Regions from separate parts of the Homo sapiens genome. Here regions 1 and 3 are each linked to region 2. The links come from fine-mapping of genetic effects on gene expression. A gene starts in region 2. Each other region holds a variant in brackets. All regions are shown on one strand. Distances are between the middles of the regions.

Region 1 (5,621 bases), 20 kb after region 2:
CACCACGCCCAGCTAACTTTTGCATTTTTAGTAGAGACAGGGTTTCACCATATTGGTCAGGCTAGTCTCAAACGCCTGACCTCAGGTGATCCGCCCGCCTTGGCCTCCCAAGGTGCTGGGATTACAGGCGTGAGCCACCGCGCCTGGCCAATTTTTGTATTTTTAATAGAGACGGGGTTTCCCCATGTTGGTCAGGCTGGTCTTGAACTCCCCACCTCAAGTGATCTGCCCACCTTGGGCTCCCAAAGTGCTGGATTACAGGTGTCAGCCACCGCGCCTGGCCCTGAAGCCTCCTTTCTAACACGAATATCAACTTAGAAACGGACGCAGCTATTGGAAAACATGTGCAACAGCTAGGGTTTGTGAAGCCACTTTTCCAACTAGAACTTTAGTGGCCTGAAGTGCAGGTTGAATATTTCCTGTGAGAATTAGGAAGTGGACACAAATGTGCAAAATACACACTGGGCTCTGAACGCTCAGCGTGAACAAAGAGTGTACAGCATCTCAACATGTATTGCTTATGAATCGAAAGGATAGTATTTTGGACACAGTGGATTAAATAAGATAAAGATACATCTTTGTTTTACGTTTCTTTCTTTCTTTTTTTTTTAGCTGGAGTTTCACTCTTGTCGCCCAGGCTGGAGTACAGTGGTGCTATCTCGGCTCACTGCAACCTCCACCTCACGGGTTCAAGTGATTCTACTGTGACGGCCTTCCAAGTAGGTGGGACCACAGGCATGCGCCACCACGCCCGGCTAATTTTTGTATTTTTAGTAGAGACGAGGTTTTGCCATGTTGGCCAGGCTGGTCTCAAACTCCTGACCTCAGGTGATCCACCTGCCTCGGCCTCCCACAGTGCTGGGATTACAGGCGTGAGCCAACGCGCCCGGCCTTGTTTTATGTTTCATACGATTTATTTTACTTACTACCACCCATTTCTTTTCTTCTTTCTATCGTGGCCGCCGGACGTGGGGCTCCCGCTCCGCTTCTGGGGACGCCGCTCTGGCCTCTCTCAGCACCGGGCAGGGGCCAAATGTGGGTGTTCGCCCTGGGTCGGGGTTCAGGCAGAGCCGCAGCCTCCTGGCTGGGAGGGTTCTCGCCTGCAGGCCGGCGGCCTCTGAGGACGACTCGCTCTCCATTCGCCACCCAACCCGCGCTGAGTGCTGGACATCCCGAGCGCGCTCTCCGTCCCTGCAGTTCCTAACGGGTTGGGAGGGTGGTTCTCCCCCGGCCGCAATCCCGCCCCCAGGAGGCACTAACCCTAACGTGGCATCTGGGGCCATCTGTGGTTGTCACGACTGGGAAGGGGGAGATCCTGGCCTGCACGGTCACCCACAGGCCCGACGGCCCCCGGGAGCCTGTTTCGGGTGCAGCACACCCGGGCTGGATCGAGCACGGTCGGGGAGGATGCGGGGCTGGGCCAAGGCCCTCGGCTCTGCAGGGAGGACGGAGAGCGGGTCCGGGGGGTCCGGGGAGGGAACGGGGCCGAGGCTCTGCGTCCACTGCCGGGCCGATGGGCCATGGGCTGCGAGGGCGGGTCGGGCGTAGAGGGTCTGGCTGGGAGGGCGGGTCAGAGGTCGGGGCCGCGGGCTGCGAGGGCGGGTCAGAGGTCGGGGCCGCGGGCTGCGACGGCGGGTCGGGAGTCGGGGCTCGGCCTGCGAGGGTGGGTCAAGGGTAGGGGGTCCCGGTCGGGGCCGCGCTCAGCACTCAAAGCGCCGCCATCCCTGCTGATGACATTCTCGACCCGCAGGGCGCAGCTGACCAGCCGCTCCCCCTCCTTTTCCGCGGGTGCAGCTCACTGGCCCTGCCACTGCGCGCGCACCCACCCCGCCCACAGCTCCCGGCAGCTCCCGCGCGGCCCCCGCAGCTGAACCACAACTCCCGCCATGCCGCGGAGCGCGGGGCGCCGGGGCGTGTGGCCCACAAGGCTTTGCGCGCTGGCGGGGCCGCTCTAGCCCGCGGTCCTCCGAGTTCGTGGCGGGCTGATGCGGGCTTGGGGCGGGCGGCGCGGACGCCCTGGCGGCTGTCTCGCCCCGTGGTCGGTCTCCTCGCGTTCCCACTGCGGGGCGCCCCGGCTGCCCTTGCGTGGGGCCCGGCACGGGGCGGCCGAGGGGGCGTCCCCGCCGCGAGTCTTCCAGCGCGCTGGTCCCGGGAGGCCTGGCCGTTCGCCCAAGGAGCCTGGTGTCCCCGGGCGGAGACTGGGAAGCCGGGTCCTGTTCCCCGGCGCTGGGCTCGCTGCGGGGGTCGGGGCCGCAGGGCCCGGTCGGGGATCCAGGTTCCGGGACGCGGATTCTGGAGTAGGGGCTGCGGGGCTTCCGGCCCGCTTCGCGGGTCAGGGTCACCGGGAGGCCGTGGTTGCGTTGGGGGTACCCGGACGTCAGTCCCAGCAGCGCGAGGGACGAGGGCGCTCGTTAGTTCCACACTGATTTACTTGTTATTTTTTTGAGACGGAGTCTCGCTCTGTCGCCCAGGCTGGAGTGCAGTGGCGC[C/G]ATCTCGGCTCACCGCAAGCTCCGCCTCCCGGGTTCACGCCATTCTCCTGCCTCAGCCTCCCGAGTAGCTGGGACTACAGGCGCCTGCCACCACGCCCGGCTAATTGTTTGTATTTTTAGTAGAGACGGGGTTTCACCGTGTTAGCCAGGATGGTCTCGATCTCCTGACCTCGTGATCTGCCCGCCTCAGCCTCCCGAGGAGCTGGGATTACAGGCTTCAGCCACCAAGCCCGGCCTTTTTTTTTTGTATTTTTAGTAGAGATAGTGTAGCAGGAAGAGCCGCAGACAAAACTCCTCAGACACCCAGTTAGAGAAGGAAGCGGTTTATTCGGCCGGGGCCATCGGCAAGACTCCTGTCCCAAGAGCCGAGCTCCCCGAGTGAGCAATTCCTGTCCCTCTTCAGGGCTCACAACTCTCAGGGGGTCCGCGTGAGAGGGTCGTGATCGATTGAACAAGCAGGGGGTACGTGACTGGGGGCTGCATGCACCGGCAATCAGATCGGAACAGAACAGGACAAGGGTTTTCACAGTGCTTTTCCATACAATGTCTGGAATCTATAGATAACGTAACCCAGTAGGTCAGGGGTCGCTCTTTAACTACCAGGCCCAGGGCACAGCGCCGGGCTGTCTGCCTGTGGATTTCATTTCTGCCTTTTAGTTTTTACTTCTTTCTTTGGAGGCAGAAATTGGGCATAAGACAATATGAGGGATGGTCTCCTCCCTTAATAGAGTTTCACCATGTTGGCCAGGCTGGTCTCGAACTCCTGACCTCAGCTGATCCCCCCTGCCTCATGCTTGTTATTATTTTGACACAGGGTCTCACTCTGTGGCCCAGGCTGGAGCGCAGTGGTGCGATCTCCACTCACTGCAACCTCCGCCTCCTGAGCTCAAGCAATCCTCCCGCCTCGGCCTTCCAAAGTGTTGGGACCACAGGCACACGTCATGCGCCCTGCCAGCACATCTTTATTGAGTGCCTGCTGTATGCCAAGCGTTGTTTTAAGTGCCAAGGAGACAGCAGAGTGCAAGGTGGGCTGACCTCGGCCCGAAGGAGCTTACATTCTAGTGAGCAGCAGGGAAGAGAGACCATGAGCCAGGCTAGTTATGCCATAAACCTCGGGCATAATACCGAAGTGGTGCTGTGCGGAGAAATGTTGAACAGCTGGCTCTCCAAGGGAAAAGGCCCTCACTTGCAGCGCACGCCGCCCCCTGTGTTGTAAATACTCCCATCGTGGCTGCCAACATGAGCCAACCAGCTCACAGATCGCCGCGAACTTCACAGTGGGCTCAGGAGCTGGCATGAGCAGCTCCAGCCGCCGCTGCAATAGGTGAGGCGTGGAGAGTGCTGCTGGGAAGAAGGAAAAGGCAGGGAAGGGGGCAGGCAGCATGATGATAGGCAGGTTGCAGGATCAAATCTGTGGTCCCGATAGGCCGGGCATGGCGGTTCACACCTGTAATCCCAGCACTTTGGGAGGCTGAGGTGGGCGGATCACTTGAGGTCAGGAGTTTGAGACCAGCCTGGCCAACATGGTGAAACCCCATCTCTATTTCTTTCCTTCTTTTTTTTGAGATGGAGTCTTGCTCTGTCGCCCAGGCTGGAGTGCACTGGCACAATCTCGGCTCACTACAAGCTCCGCCTCCCGGGTTCACGTCATTCTTCTGCCTCAGCCTCCTGTGTAGCTGGGACTACAGGCGCCTGCCACCACGCCTGGCTAATTTTTTGTATTTTTAGTAGAGACGGGGTTTCACTGTATTAGCCAGGATGGTCTCGATCTCCTGATCTCGTGATCTGCTCGCCTCAGCCTCCCAAAGTGCTGGGATTACAGGCGTGAGCCACCGCTCCCGGCCCCATCTCTATTAAAAAAGACAAAAATTAGCTGGGTGTGGTGACGGGCGCCTGTAATCCCAGCTACTTGGGAGGCTGAGGCAGGAGAATCGCCTGAACCCACCAGGCGGAGGTTGCAGTGAGCCGAGATTGCGCCACTACCCTCCAGCCTGGGTGATAGAGCAAGACTCCATCTCAGAAAAACAACAGAAACAAAAAATCAATCAATCAATCAGTGGTCCAAGGAAGATCCTGGAGGTGGAGAGATTTGAGCAAGGCCTTCCTGGAGGGGGAGGGAGTTGGACCGGGTGTATCAGGCAGAATGTACGGTGAGTGCAGAGGCTGAGTCCGGAGGGACCAACGCAGCCAGAGAGGGCAGGAAGGACCTGGGCTTGTAGGACCTTGCAGGCTACAGCAGAGCCCACTAGGACCCCTCTCCAGCCCCCCAAATCCTCGGAATACAAGCCCTTCCTTCCTCTGAGCTTCGGTGTCCTCGTCTGTAACATGAGGACTTGCCAGGCATGGGCTGGGTGCCCAGCAGAGCCTGAGAGCTGGTCCTGTCCTCACTGTCCCACGGGGACAGCAGGCTCTCTCTGGATGAGGATGGAGGGGAGCTGGCAGGTTCTCTGTGTCCTTGCGGGAAGAACAAGCCTTCCTTGTTAGAGTCTCCCGGGAACAAAGGGGCGGGCAGCAGCAGGGCGCGTGAGTCTGAGTCAGGGGGCTGGCCGCCGGACAAAGGACAGCAGTGAGCAGCCTCAGGGAAGTGGGGAGTGGCAGATCACGGAGGCTGGGAGCATGAGCTGACCCTGGACGGGCCGGTGGCAGCAGCCACAAACACCTGGCCTCCCCCTCTCCTGCTGTGCCGTGTGCCAGGGACACAGAAACAGCAGGTCATCGGAGGAACCCGGCCTCCTGGGAGCTGCCTCCCAGCTGTCGCACCCTCATCTGCAGCCGGAGGATGTGTTTTAGGAAAGAATGTCGGGAACTTGGGGCTGGCACCGTGGCTCACACCTGCCCTCCCGGTGCTTTAGGGGGCTGAGGTGGGAGGATCGCTAACCCCAGGAGGTCAGGGCCGCCTCATTCCCACCATTCTCTGATCACCCTTCTCCACCGTCAGTGAGCTGTGATCGCGCCAGCCTGGATGGTGGAGTGAGACCTTGTCTCTAGAGAAAAGAACGGTGGGACTTGGATCGGCAGCAGCCACAGCAGTCATGTCTGTCATCTGGACTATTGTAGAGCTTCATTCCACTCACTGGCTCAGCAGGCACTCACTGCGCACCTGTTCTGGGCAGGCGGTGTTTGGGATGCCCA
Region 2 (5,599 bases):
AGGAGGCCTCCGGGGCTGCACTCTGGGGCTCTCTGACCCCAGCTCTGCCCTCGGTGGCCGTGTGGCCTTCAGCAAGTCATGTAACGTCTGTGTGTGTGCTCCAGGGGGCCTTGGAGACGACCAGGAAGGTGGCAGGAGGGGGACACTGTGGCTGCCATCACCAGCCCTGGCGGCCGGAGCTTGCCATTTCTCAAAAGAAGGTGCCAGGGAGGATCTGGGGTGACTTCTCCCCCAGCCTACCACGGTGATGCTCTCAGGAGCAGCCCCAGTCAGCCCCTCAGCCTTTGGGGGTCAACACACTGGACTGAGTGGGGACAAATCTGCCAGGCTCTGAGCTTCTCTTTTTTTTTTTTTGAGACAGAGTCTCGCTCTGTCGCCCAGGCTGGAGTGCAGTGGCGCGATCTCGGCTCAATGCAAGCTCCGCCTCCTGGGTTCATGCCATTCTCCTGCCTCAGCCTCCCGAGTAGCTGGGACTACAGGCGCCCGCCACCACACCCGGCTAATTTTTTGTATTTTTAGTAGAGACGGGGTTTCACCGTGTTAGCCAGGATGGTCTCGATCTCCTGACCTTGTGATCCGCCCGCCTCGGCCTCCCAAAGTGCTGGGATGACAGGCGTGAGCCACCGCGCCCGGCTGCTCTGGGCTTCTCTTCCTGACTGGTCAGGTGACCTCAGGGGTTCCTGACGGTCCAAGGATGGAGGGGCGGCCGGAGCTGCCTGCTGGGAGGACGGGAGCAGGCCTGGCTCCATGAGCACAGAATCAGATGCCACGCAGGTCTGTGCACCTGTCTTCTGCATTCCCCACTGGCTGTGTCTCTGGGGAGCCCAGGCGAGCCCAGGGCCGGGATGCATCTGCCACCAGCACCACCCTTGCCCTGAGTCCCTGCTATGAGAACTCTTCCAGCCAATGGCTCCACTCCTGTCCTGGGGTGACTGGTGCCCACCAAACTCACGCCCATCCAGAACCTCAGACTGAGAGCTTATTTGAGACAGCAGCTTTGCAGATGTAGGCGGTTGAGGTCACACTGGAGTAGGGTGGGGCCTAGTGGTGTCCTTATGAGGGAACACAGAACAGAGACACACAGGAGGCCACGTGACGACGGAGGCAGAGACTGCAGCAATGTGGCCACAAGCCAAAGACTGCTGGCCGCCACTGGAGGCTGGGGAGGCAAGGAAGGCTCCTTCCCTGGAGCCTCCAGAGGGAGTGTGGTCCTCCTGACACTCCGATTTCAGACTTCTGCCCTCCAGAACTGTGAGAGAATAAATTTCTGTTGTTTTAAGCCACTAAGTTGGAGGTAATTTGTTCCAGCAGCCCTCGGAAATTAATATAAATATAAATATCCTCATCTGCAGTGTCTACGGGGTGAGTGGCTTGTGCAGTGCTCAACCTGAACAACCATACGTGGTGGGCCTGCTGTTGACCCCTTTTCCTCCTTGGGAGATTCTCTTCCGGATGTCCTGGGAGGCCATCTTCCTCCTGCTCCCCGTTCACCTCTGGTCTCACGTTCTCACCCTCTCTGGTGGGCTCTCTGGGCTAGGTGCCCTCAGAGTGGGGTCCTGAGCTCTTCTCATCTCTCCTGAAGACTTCAGGACCCCTCCAGTTCAGTCTTCTGTCCTGGCCCCACGTCAGTTGCAGACGCTTCTTTCTACCTTCCTGTCTCCAGGCTCCTCCCAGCCTCCAACTTAATCCGCAAGTGGCTCTGGCAGCTTCTTCAAACCAGGGGCCTTCCATCGCAGTAAACGGCTCCACTGACCCTCTGGGCCTGCCCTTGCCCGCTCCCCTCCCACCTGGCTCCAGCAAATCATCGGGCGGGGCCTTCAGAGCCACTGGGCCACCGGAGCAAGTCTGCTCCTTGTCCAGGTACCCAACACCCTGCCACCCTTATCTGAGTATGATCTTGGACACCTGTGCACCCTGAACGTGGTAGGGGGGACACTCCCCATCTCTCTTCTCCCCCCGAACTTCTCTGGGACTCTGGCGAGGGCTGCCATGGTGGGCGCTTATGCCCTGGTTATGAGGCTGAAAGGGCACCTTTGCTTGGCATCCTTCCCTGCCTGCTCTTCCCACCCCCTTCCTGGGTTCTCTTGGGCGCACCCCCTTGTAAAATCACCTGCACACACAATGCCTACCTCAGGCTCCGCTTCTGGGGACCCCCCCCCCAACAAAAGACATCAGCCCATCCATCCCCAACGCCAACAGATAGTCCCCAACCACCTTCCCTGGGCTCAGAACTGGCCCCAGCCAGGGGACACCGCGCGTAGGCACCTGCAGCCTCGCATGCTTCAGCCAAATTCCGTGGCTTTCCCGCCTCCCGTGTGCCCCACACTCGGGGTCTAAATTTGCACCTGCTGGGCCTCTTCCCTGCAACCCGCCCGCACATCGCCAGGCTCTTCCAGGAATCCCCACCTGCCCGCTGGGAGCCTGTCCCCTAAGATGGGGGCCCTGGGTGACTGCGCTGCTCTCTGTAAATATTCACGTTCTGGCTGAATGGACGGGGATAACATGAGGCTGCTAAGGAGGCGACTAGGAGGACCTGGCTCGGGGGCTGGCTCTGCGACCTCGGGCCAAGTCCTCTTGAGCTGCACGATTTTGAAAATCATGAACTGCAAGGGGAAACTCAGCACCTGCAAAAAGGCATCACAGAAGGCGAAGCCGGCCAGAAGGACTCGCGCCGCATGCAGCGCGCTGCCTAGCGCCGGACCGAAGCCCGGACCCTCCAGCCCACCTTGTCCGATCCATCCCACCCAAGAAGGCATCGCGCACTACAACTCCCAGCAAGCCCCGGGCCCCTGCGCCGGCGCTGCGGGTAGGGAGCCGCGCGCGGCATGCTGGGAGTTGAAGTCCATCGCTGCCCCACCCGCCCAAGCCGGCCCACTGCGCACCTCTGGGAGTGGTGGGCCAGGCGAAGGTGCCATAGCGCGCGGCCCAGGCGCTGCTGCTGCAGCAGGAGCTGGCCCGGGGGCTCCCCGGCGCCGCCGTTTACAGGCGAGCGCAGGCCCATGTTCTCGAAGTAGTGAGCCAGGAAGGCGATCGGCTCCTCGGGCCGCGCCTCCAGCACCTTCAGCAGGGCCGCACGTAGCATTTCCGTCACGCCGACCTGCCGCAGGAAGTCCTCCTCGCTCTCGGCCGCCCCCGCCGCCCGGGATACCGACTGGCGGCCGCTGTCCGTGAAACCGGCCGGCGGTGGTACCGCTTGCCGCCGCTTCTCCACTGCCGCCATCTTCGCTGAGGGCAGCGGGACCGGAAGCACCGCCATATTCCACTGTGCGCTAGAGCCCCCCCAAGGCGGCCATCTTGATTAAGGGCAGAGGGCACCGGTATCCCGCTGGGAGACTTTGGGAAGTGACAAGGGTACGCTACCACTTTCCTTGTGTCCTTATTGGCACTCTCTCTTCTCCTCCCTCTTTGTGTATATTGATTGGCTCTCCTGGCTTTGGCCTCGGTCCTGAATTTTGCCAGACTCCAAAATGGCTGCCTCGGAAGTGCTTCGTTTCTGGCACAAAGCCGGATTGCTTGCCATTTGGGTAGTGAGCGAGTCCTTCATTAGCATGGTCTCCTAGCAACCAGTCTCCCTGGTTAGCAGAGAAGCCTGACGGAGCATGCGCGGGGCTGGACCTGCCCAGGACTGCTGGACCCAGCCCCGCGCCCGGCCCCCAGACCCTTTTCTCATGTTCATCTCTGAGCCTTGGTGCTGGGGGTCGAGCTCAGCCTGGCCTTCCGCCTAACTCAGTCAACGTCTGAGTGCGTAGCTCACCTCGTGGGAGAAGCCCCCTCCCCAGCTCCGCTGCAGCTGCGCTGAGCCCCTATTGGCGGCCACACGGGCGAGCATCCCGCGCTGTTACCCCCTGACCGCCAGAGGGAGCTTTCTGACACCGCAGCCTCCAGAGCTGTAAACTCTGCCATGGCTCTCCAGGGCCCCCGGGCTGGCACCTCCAGGCCTTCATCGCCTGACCTCGCTTCCGGCCGCCCTCCCGGCCCTCCCAACCCTCCGCAGCCCGCAGCCACCTCAAAACACAAGCAGTCTCCTCCATAAGCCGCCTCTGGGTGTGTTTCCCCAGGCGACCTCTGTGGATCTTCCCTCACTGCTTTCGGGGACTCCTGGTTAAGCTTCTCACCGAGGAAACCACTAAGCCCTCGCGTTTCCCCGCCCCGGGCAGAGCTTGCTGGGTGCCGTCCCCGTCCCTCAGGGGCGTTGCCCCGGGCAGGGGGCAATGAGAGCTGTTTGCCGGGGGACCGTTCCACCATCCTCCCAGCACAGGAATCTCTGGCGGGCAGACCAAATGCCCTTTGTAAAACGTGAAGTAGAGGTTCCTCTTCAAATGAGACTTTCCTCCCCATCTAATTAGGAATAAATAGTAACTTCTCTTAGAAGCAAAATGTATTCAAAGGCCTGTGGTAGGCCGGGCGCGGTGGCTCACGCCTGTCATCCCAGCACTTTGGGAGGCCGAGGCGGGCGGATCACGAGGTCAGGAGATCGAGACCATCCCGGCTAACACGGTGAAACCCCGTCTCTACTAAAAATACAAAAAATTAGCCAGGCGTGGTGGCGGGCGCCTGTAGTCCCAGCTACTCGGGAGGCTGAGGCAGGAGAATGGCGTGAACCCGGGAGGCGGAGCTTGCAAGTGAGCCGAGATCGCGCCACTGCACTCCAGCCTGGGCGACAGAGCGAGACTCTGTCTCAAAAAACAAACAAACAAAAGACCTGTGCTAACATTCTTTGTTAATTAATTGTTAATGTTATATTGAATATATATAATGTAATAAGGAAATCAACATACTTTATGTTCTTAGTGCCCACAATGTAGGCTAAATATCTGCCCTGGCATGCTTATACTGGTCCAAGCAAGCATTAGGTCATAACCTGTTCCTCTTCCTTATTTGAAGGTGTTTTTACCTTTCTTAGCATTCCACAAGCTACTTCTTCCTTCCTTTGTTCTCCTCTGCCTTTGCCTCTTTTTAAAAGTTCCAAGCTGCTAGCCGATCGGGATAAATACAGAATGTGAGGTCCCGTTCCAGCCAATGGAAACCGTCCCGTTCCAGCCAATGGAAACCGGACAGAGCAGTAGGGTGGACGCGTCAGGTTATAAATGACCCTGTCTCCTTTGTTCTGGATACTCTCGTGGCAAAACTGCTGGCCAGTGTACCCTTTCTGCAGAAAGTAAAACAGTGGCCTTGCTGAGGAAATGACATTTATATTCAAGTGCTATTTCTTTACGGCACCGGGGAACAAGCATTTCTAACACTTTCTTCTCCAGCCCCGGACTGTGGGATGAGGGAGATGGAGCCATCAGGGCAGGACCCACAGTCAACCCTCTGCTGTCCGGAGCCCTCAGACCTCTCCTCTCCACGGAGTGGGTGTCAACTGAGAAAACTGACACGTTTGTATCATTTTAGGAGGTTTATTTGCCAAAGCCTCAGGAGGTCCTGACGACAGGGGCCCAGGGTGGTCAGGGCACAGCTTGGTCTTACGCATTTTTAGGGAGACGTGAGACATGAATCAATGTATGTAAAAAGTACGTGGTTCCGTCCAGAAAGGTGGGGACCACTCAGGGAGGGGCTTCAGGTCATGGGTAGGTGAGACAAACAGTGGCCTTCTTTT
Region 3 (5,621 bases), 8.5 kb after region 2:
CTACACAGTCCCTGATGTTTACAAAAAGGACCCACAGTTAAGAGAAGCCCACTGGACAGACAAGGAAACTGAGGCTGGGCAGATGGGGAAACCGAGGCTGGAAAGACGGGGAAACCGAGGCTGGGCAGATGGGGAAACCGAGGCTGGGCAGACGGGGAAACTGAGGCTGGGCAGACGGGGAAACCAAGGCTGGGCAGGGCAATTTCTTGTCTAAAGTCTTCATCCAAGGAACCTCTCGCTCTCAGCCCTTCCCACCCTCCCTGCCCCCAGGGACCAGAACTCACAGCCTGTTGGGATCACTTCTCCCTGCGTGGGCCCAGCCTGGGAGATCTCAGGGCGGCGAGTCCTGGTGGAGCCTGGGCTCCTGGGGGTGTGTGTGGAGCCCTGCTGGGGGGCGGGCTCCGGGGAGGTCTTGTCGGGAGGCTCCGGGGAGGTGGTGTCGGGAGGCTCCTGGGAGGTGGTGTCGGGAGACTCCGGGGAGGTGGTGTCGGGAGACTCCGGGGAGGTGGTGTCGGGAGGCTCCGGGGAGGTCGGGCTGTGCAGGACTGGAAACAGAGTGAGGGTTTTTTTTTCCTCTCTGCTGCCCCAGGCTTGCCTCTCCTGCCTCAATCTCCGCATCTGGATGAAGGGCTTGGACCAGAACCCCTCCAAGCCCCTTCCCTGGACCACTCTGGTGAGTCACATTTCCATTTATTCTTTTTTTTTTTTTTTTTTTTTTTTTTTTTTTTGAGACAGAGTTTTGCTCTTGTTACCCAGGCTGGAGTGCAGTGGCGCAATCTTGGCTCACCACAACCTCCGCTCCTCAGGTTCAAGCGATTCCCCTGCCTCAGCCTCTGGAGTAGCTGGGATCACAGGCGCTTGCCACCACACCTGGCTAATTTTGTATTTTTAGTAGAGATGGGGTTTCTCCATGTTGGTCAGGCTGGCCTTGAACTCCCAACCTCAGGTGATCTACCCACCTCGGCCTCCCAAAGTGCTGGGATTACAGGCGTGAGCCACCACGCCCGGCCTGGTTTTTTTTTTTAGAGATGGGGTCTCACTCTGTCGTGCAGGCTGGAGTGCAGTGTTGTGATCATGGATCACTGCAGCCTCAACCTCCCAGGCTGAAGCCATCCTCCCCACTCAGCCTCCTGAGTAGCTGGGACCACAGGTGTGCAATACCACGCCCAGCTAATTTTTAAATTTTTTTGTAGAGATGGGAGGTCTCGTATGTTGCCCAAGCTGGTCTGGAACTCCTGTACTCAAGTGATCCTCCCGCCTCAGCCTCCCATGGCTGGCCTACATTTTTGTTTCTATTCGGCTTACTGTTCTAGTTGATAAAGCCTAGAATTTGTTGTTGTTGTTGAGATGGAGTCTCGTTCTGTTGCCCAGGCTGGAGTGCAATGGTGCGATCTCGGCTCACTGCAACCTCCGCCTCCCGGGTTCAAGCGATTCTCCCGCCTCAGCCTCCTGAGTAGCTGGAATTACAGGCGCTCACCACCACGCCAGGCTAATATTTGTATTTTTAGTAGGGGACGGGGTTTCACCATGTTGGTCAGGCTAGTCTCGATCTCCTAATCTCGTGATCCACCCACCTCAGCTTCCCAAAGTGCTGGGATTACAAGCATGAGCCACCGCACCTGGCCACATCTAATTTTTGTATTTTTAATAGAGATGGGGTTTCACTATGTTGGCCAGGCTGGTCTTGAACTCCTGACCTCAGGTAATCCACCCACCTCAGCCTCCCAAAGTGCTGGGATTACAGGCGTGAGCCCGGCCTAAAGCCTATAATTTATAAAGTGCTTTGAAATCCACATGGTCCCTGAAATTTACAAAGGACCCACAGTCAGGGAAGTCCACTGGACAGATGAGGAAGCTGAGGCACCACAGTGGGCAGGATGGGAGTCCGGGCATTCCAGGTCCCCCACTCACTGGCAACATCACCCCAGCAGCCTCCTTAATCTCCACGTGCCTCAGTTTCCTCAACTGTCAAAGGGGTGAGAGTCACCTCTTTGGGCTGCCCTGAGAGCGAGTGGGTCCCGCGTTTATTATGATGGGCTGTGGACGAGGAGAGTTGGGAGGAGGCTGGCGTGGAGAGAGAAGGTGCTTGGGGGCTTTCTGCCCTGGCCTTCTGCTCCATCCCCTGTGGGACTGATGGGGAGACTGAGGCCCGTGAGGGCCCGTGTTCTGTAAAATATCCCTCAAATCCAGCCTCCTCTCTGCCCACCCCAGCCCCACCCCCACCACAAAGACCTC[C/T]CGGGTCTCCCAGCTTCTGCTTTATCCCCGGGAGCCCTTTGCTTGAAACTCACGACCTCACGTCCATTAACATGGGTATCAGGGTGCCCCATGGGAGGACAAATCCCTTTTTCTTTAGTGGGAGAAGCCGGCAGGGGCTTCGGGATTGGACAGAGCGTGAAGGGAGCACCGCCAGGGCACCGGCCCACATTAAATGTCTTCATCCGAGCATTCAGCAAGGGTTTATTGAGCACCTGCTATGCCCCAGGCCCTGTTCTAGCTTCTGTGGACACAGCCGTGCGCGACACAAGATTCCCACCTGGGGAGCCACAGTGGGAGAAGGTCATGGAAAAGAGAATGTACGGGACTGGGGGATGTCAGATGTTATCCAAGGTGTCAAGAAACGAAACAGAAGGGAAAGGGGGCTCACACGCGTGTGCGTGTTTGTACACGCGTGTGCCTGTGTGCCTGTGTTTGTACACGCGTGTGGGTGTGTGCGTTTGTTCCCGTGTGTGCTTGTGTGCCTGTTTGTACACGCGTGTGCGTGTGTGCCTGTGTGCACGCGTGTGTGTGTCTGTGTTTGTACATGTGTGTGCTTGTGTGCCTATGTTTGTACACGTTGGGGATCAGGGGTTGACCCTTTAAACGGGAATCCAGGGAAGCCTCACGGAGGAGGCAACATTCTACAGAGACCTGAGGGGGAGGAGGAGAGAGCCGTGGAAAGATCCGGAAGAAGGGTATTCCCGGCAGAGGGCACAGCCGTGCAAAGGCCCCGGGGCAGGATCACGCCTGGTGTGTTGGAGGAACAGCGAGGAGGCGAGGAGGCCCGTGTGGCTGCAGCAGAATGAGGAGGGGGAGAAAGGGTGGAGGGAGGACAGGAAGGGGACAGGGTAGGTCGTGCAGGTTCCTGTGGGCCCCCGGGAGGACTTGGGCTTTGACCCCAAGGCAAGAGCCATGGAGCGCTGTGGGCAGGGGAGGGGTGGGACCTGTGCTGGGGGGCAGGTGCTCGGCAAATACATGTTGCGTCGATGAATGTCGCTGTCGCTGCGTGGGGGAATCCAGTCCTCCCAGCGCCCCACAGCACAGGTGCTGCCCCCCCACCCCCCCACCCCGTCCCGAAGTGCTTGTCAAGGCTGGCGAGCGGGTGGGTCTCCAGGGCACCCAGCGGACTCACCGGGGATGGCCTGGCGGTGGCTGAGCTCCAAGCCAGGCAGCCTCATCGTGGCCTGGCAGTAGAGGGCGGGCGGGACAGGGGTCCCCAGGGGCGGCAGCCGCCAGCGCTCTGTCACCCTGAACAGCACGTCCTCGTCCCCCTGGGGCTCCTCCTCCTCCTCCTGCACCTCCGGGCCCAGGGCTTGCGCCCCCTCCAGTTCCTGGCCCCCGACGAGCAGGGAGAAGGAGAGCGCGTTGGGGTCCACGGGCGTGACTTTGTGGGCCGTACAGGCCACCTCCGGGTCACCAGGCACCAGGGCTGCTGGGGAGACGGTCAGCTGGTCCGGGAAGGCTGTGATGGAGGGTCGGGGGTGAGGGCTGAGCCCAGAGTCAGGGCTGGACGTGATGGAGGGGCCGGAGCCCGGAGGGGCTTGGAGCTGGGGCCAAGGATGCGTGGGGGCTGCTGATGAACAGGCAGTAGGGACGGCCTGTGCGCAGGCCCCGTGGCCCCACCCTGGGAGGCTGGAATAGACAGGAGGATGGGCCAGGGCCGGCCCTGGGAGAGTTGGGGTGAGTTGGAGGGAAGCGAAGGCCGGGGACCTGGCTTCGGGGAGCTGTGCATGGAGCTGGGACCCTGCCTGCAATCTGGGAGGCTTCCAGGAAGAGGTGGCATAGGGAAGGAGCCGGGAGTCCAAGGGTCAGAGAGGCAGGGCGCGGGGGGACGCCTCACCGTACACAAGGAGCTGCACGGTGTGCTGGAAGGTGCGGCCCCCGCAGGAGCCCACGCACACGCGGGTCCCGGCCGCCGACAGCGAGGCGTTGCGCACGGTGAGGACGCTGCGGCCCGTGTCCGACTGCACCGCGCCCAGGCTGGTGTCCAGGCCCCGCCACTGCACCGAGGCCCCGCGGTCCGCGCAGGCCAGGCGGCAGGTGAGCTGGCGCGAGGCGCCCAAGGCCACGGCCACCACCGGCTCCGGGGGCTCCACCTGCAGGGGCTTCACCTGGAGGGACTGGCCTGCGGCGACCGCGGCTCTCGCTCAGCCCCGCGGAGTCCCGGACCCCGCCCCGCCACCGGCCCTGCGTCCCGCTCCACCCCCGGACCCCGCCCCGCCTCTGCCCGGTTCCCGGACCCTCCGCTGCACCCCCGGACCCCTGCCCCGCCGCTACCCGGACTCCCAGGCTCGGTCCCTGAACCCCGCCCCGACCGCCGCCTCTGCCCCAGTCCCCCGAACCCCAGCTGCCTGGAGCCAGTTTCGCTGCGGGTCAGGGGGCCGCGCGGAGCCCCGCAACTTCCCCTCTCAGCCCCTGCCTCCTCCGAGCCCCCTCCTCTGGCAGGATCACCAATCACCCCCTATCTCGGAGCCCCTTAACTCTGAGCACCCCTCGTCTCTCCCGCGCCCCCTCCGAGCCCCTCCTCTCTCCTGCGCCCCCTCTTAACTCCCTCCTCTCTCCCGCGTCCCCTCCCCGCTCACCGCGCCCCTTCCTCTCCCCCGGGCCCCCTCCCCTCTCCCGGGCCCCCCTTCTCTTCCGAACCCCCTCCCCTCTCCCGAGCCCCCTCCCCTCTCCCGAGCCCCCCTTCTCTTCCAAACCCCCTCCCCTCTCCCGCGCCCCCTCCTCTCTCCTGAGTCCTCTTCACTTTACTGCGCCCCCTGCTCTCTCCTGCGCCCCCTCCCCTCCGCGCCCCTCCTCTCTCCTGCGCCCCTTCTCTCTCCTGAGCCCCTTCTCTCTCCTGAGCCCCCTCCACTCTCCTGCGCCCCCTCCTCTCCCCTGCGCCCCTCCTCTCTCCTGCGTCCCTCCTCTCTCCTGAGCCCCCCCACTCTACTGAGCCCCCTCCCCTCTCCTGAGCCCCCTCCTAACTCCCTCCTCTCTCCCGCGTCCCCTCCCCGCTCACCGCGCCCCTTCCTCTCCCCCGAGCCCCCTCCCCTCTCCCGCGCCCCCTCCTCTCTCCCGCGCCCCCTCCACTCTCCTGCGCCCCCTCCTCTCTCCTGCGCCCCCTCCCCTCCGCGCCCCCTCCTCTCTCCCGCGCCCCCTCCTCTCTCCTGCGCCCCTCCTCTCTCCTGAGCCCCCTCCACTCTCCTGAGCCCCCTCCTCTCTCCTGCGCCCCTCCTCTCTCCTGCGTCCCTCCTCTCTCCTGAGCCCCCCCACTCTACTGAGCCCCCTCCCCTCTCCTGGGCCCCCTCCTCTCTCCCGGGCCCTCTCCTCTCTCCTGAGCCCCCTCCCCTCTCCTGAGCCCCCTCCTCTCTCCTGAGCCCCCT

The links.
Region 1: its variant is fine-mapped to the expression of MADCAM1-AS1 in skeletal muscle (GTEx, PIP above 0.99). The same link has a PIP of 0.9 or more in anterior cingulate cortex, atrial appendage, breast, caudate, cerebellar hemisphere and esophagus muscle.
Region 3: its variant is fine-mapped to the expression of MADCAM1-AS1 in stomach (GTEx, PIP 0.95).

Annotation. Positions count from the first base shown.
Region 1 is chr19:485,345-490,965 of GRCh38, reverse strand. LOC124904608 (a long non-coding RNA gene) reads right to left here and starts at 1,800. Exons shown (of 2, transcript XR_007067072.1): 1 at 1,261-1,800; 2 at 896-1,100. It also overlaps a transcript of CIMAP1D not described here. RefSeq lists silencers at 1,411-1,460, 1,531-2,160 and enhancers at 988-1,489, 4,795-5,313. The variant C/G (reference allele first, on the strand shown) is at 2,490.
Region 2 is chr19:505,128-510,726 of GRCh38, reverse strand. It overlaps MADCAM1-AS1 (MADCAM1 antisense RNA 1), which reads left to right and starts at 2,838. Exons shown (of 3, transcript XR_936221.4): 1 at 2,838-3,351. TPGS1 (tubulin polyglutamylase complex subunit 1) reads right to left here and starts at 3,230. Exons shown (of 2, transcript NM_033513.3): 1 at 2,883-3,230. The coding sequence starts at 3,220. MADCAM1 (mucosal vascular addressin cell adhesion molecule 1) reads right to left here. Exons shown (of 5, transcript NM_130760.3): 5 at 5,384-5,599. RefSeq lists silencers at 1-98, 3,955-4,084 and enhancers at 1-247, 3,085-3,424, 3,297-4,154.
Region 3 is chr19:496,593-502,213 of GRCh38, reverse strand. It overlaps MADCAM1 (mucosal vascular addressin cell adhesion molecule 1), which reads right to left. Exons shown (of 5, transcript NM_130760.3): 2 at 4,097-4,381; 3 at 3,389-3,718; 4 at 285-545. It overlaps MADCAM1-AS1 (MADCAM1 antisense RNA 1), which reads left to right. Exons shown (of 3, transcript XR_936221.4): 2 at 590-673; 3 at 2,354-2,445. Among named protein-coding and RNA genes, the nearest start is that of MADCAM1, 2.9 kb to the right of the region's middle. The variant C/T (reference allele first, on the strand shown) is at 2,236.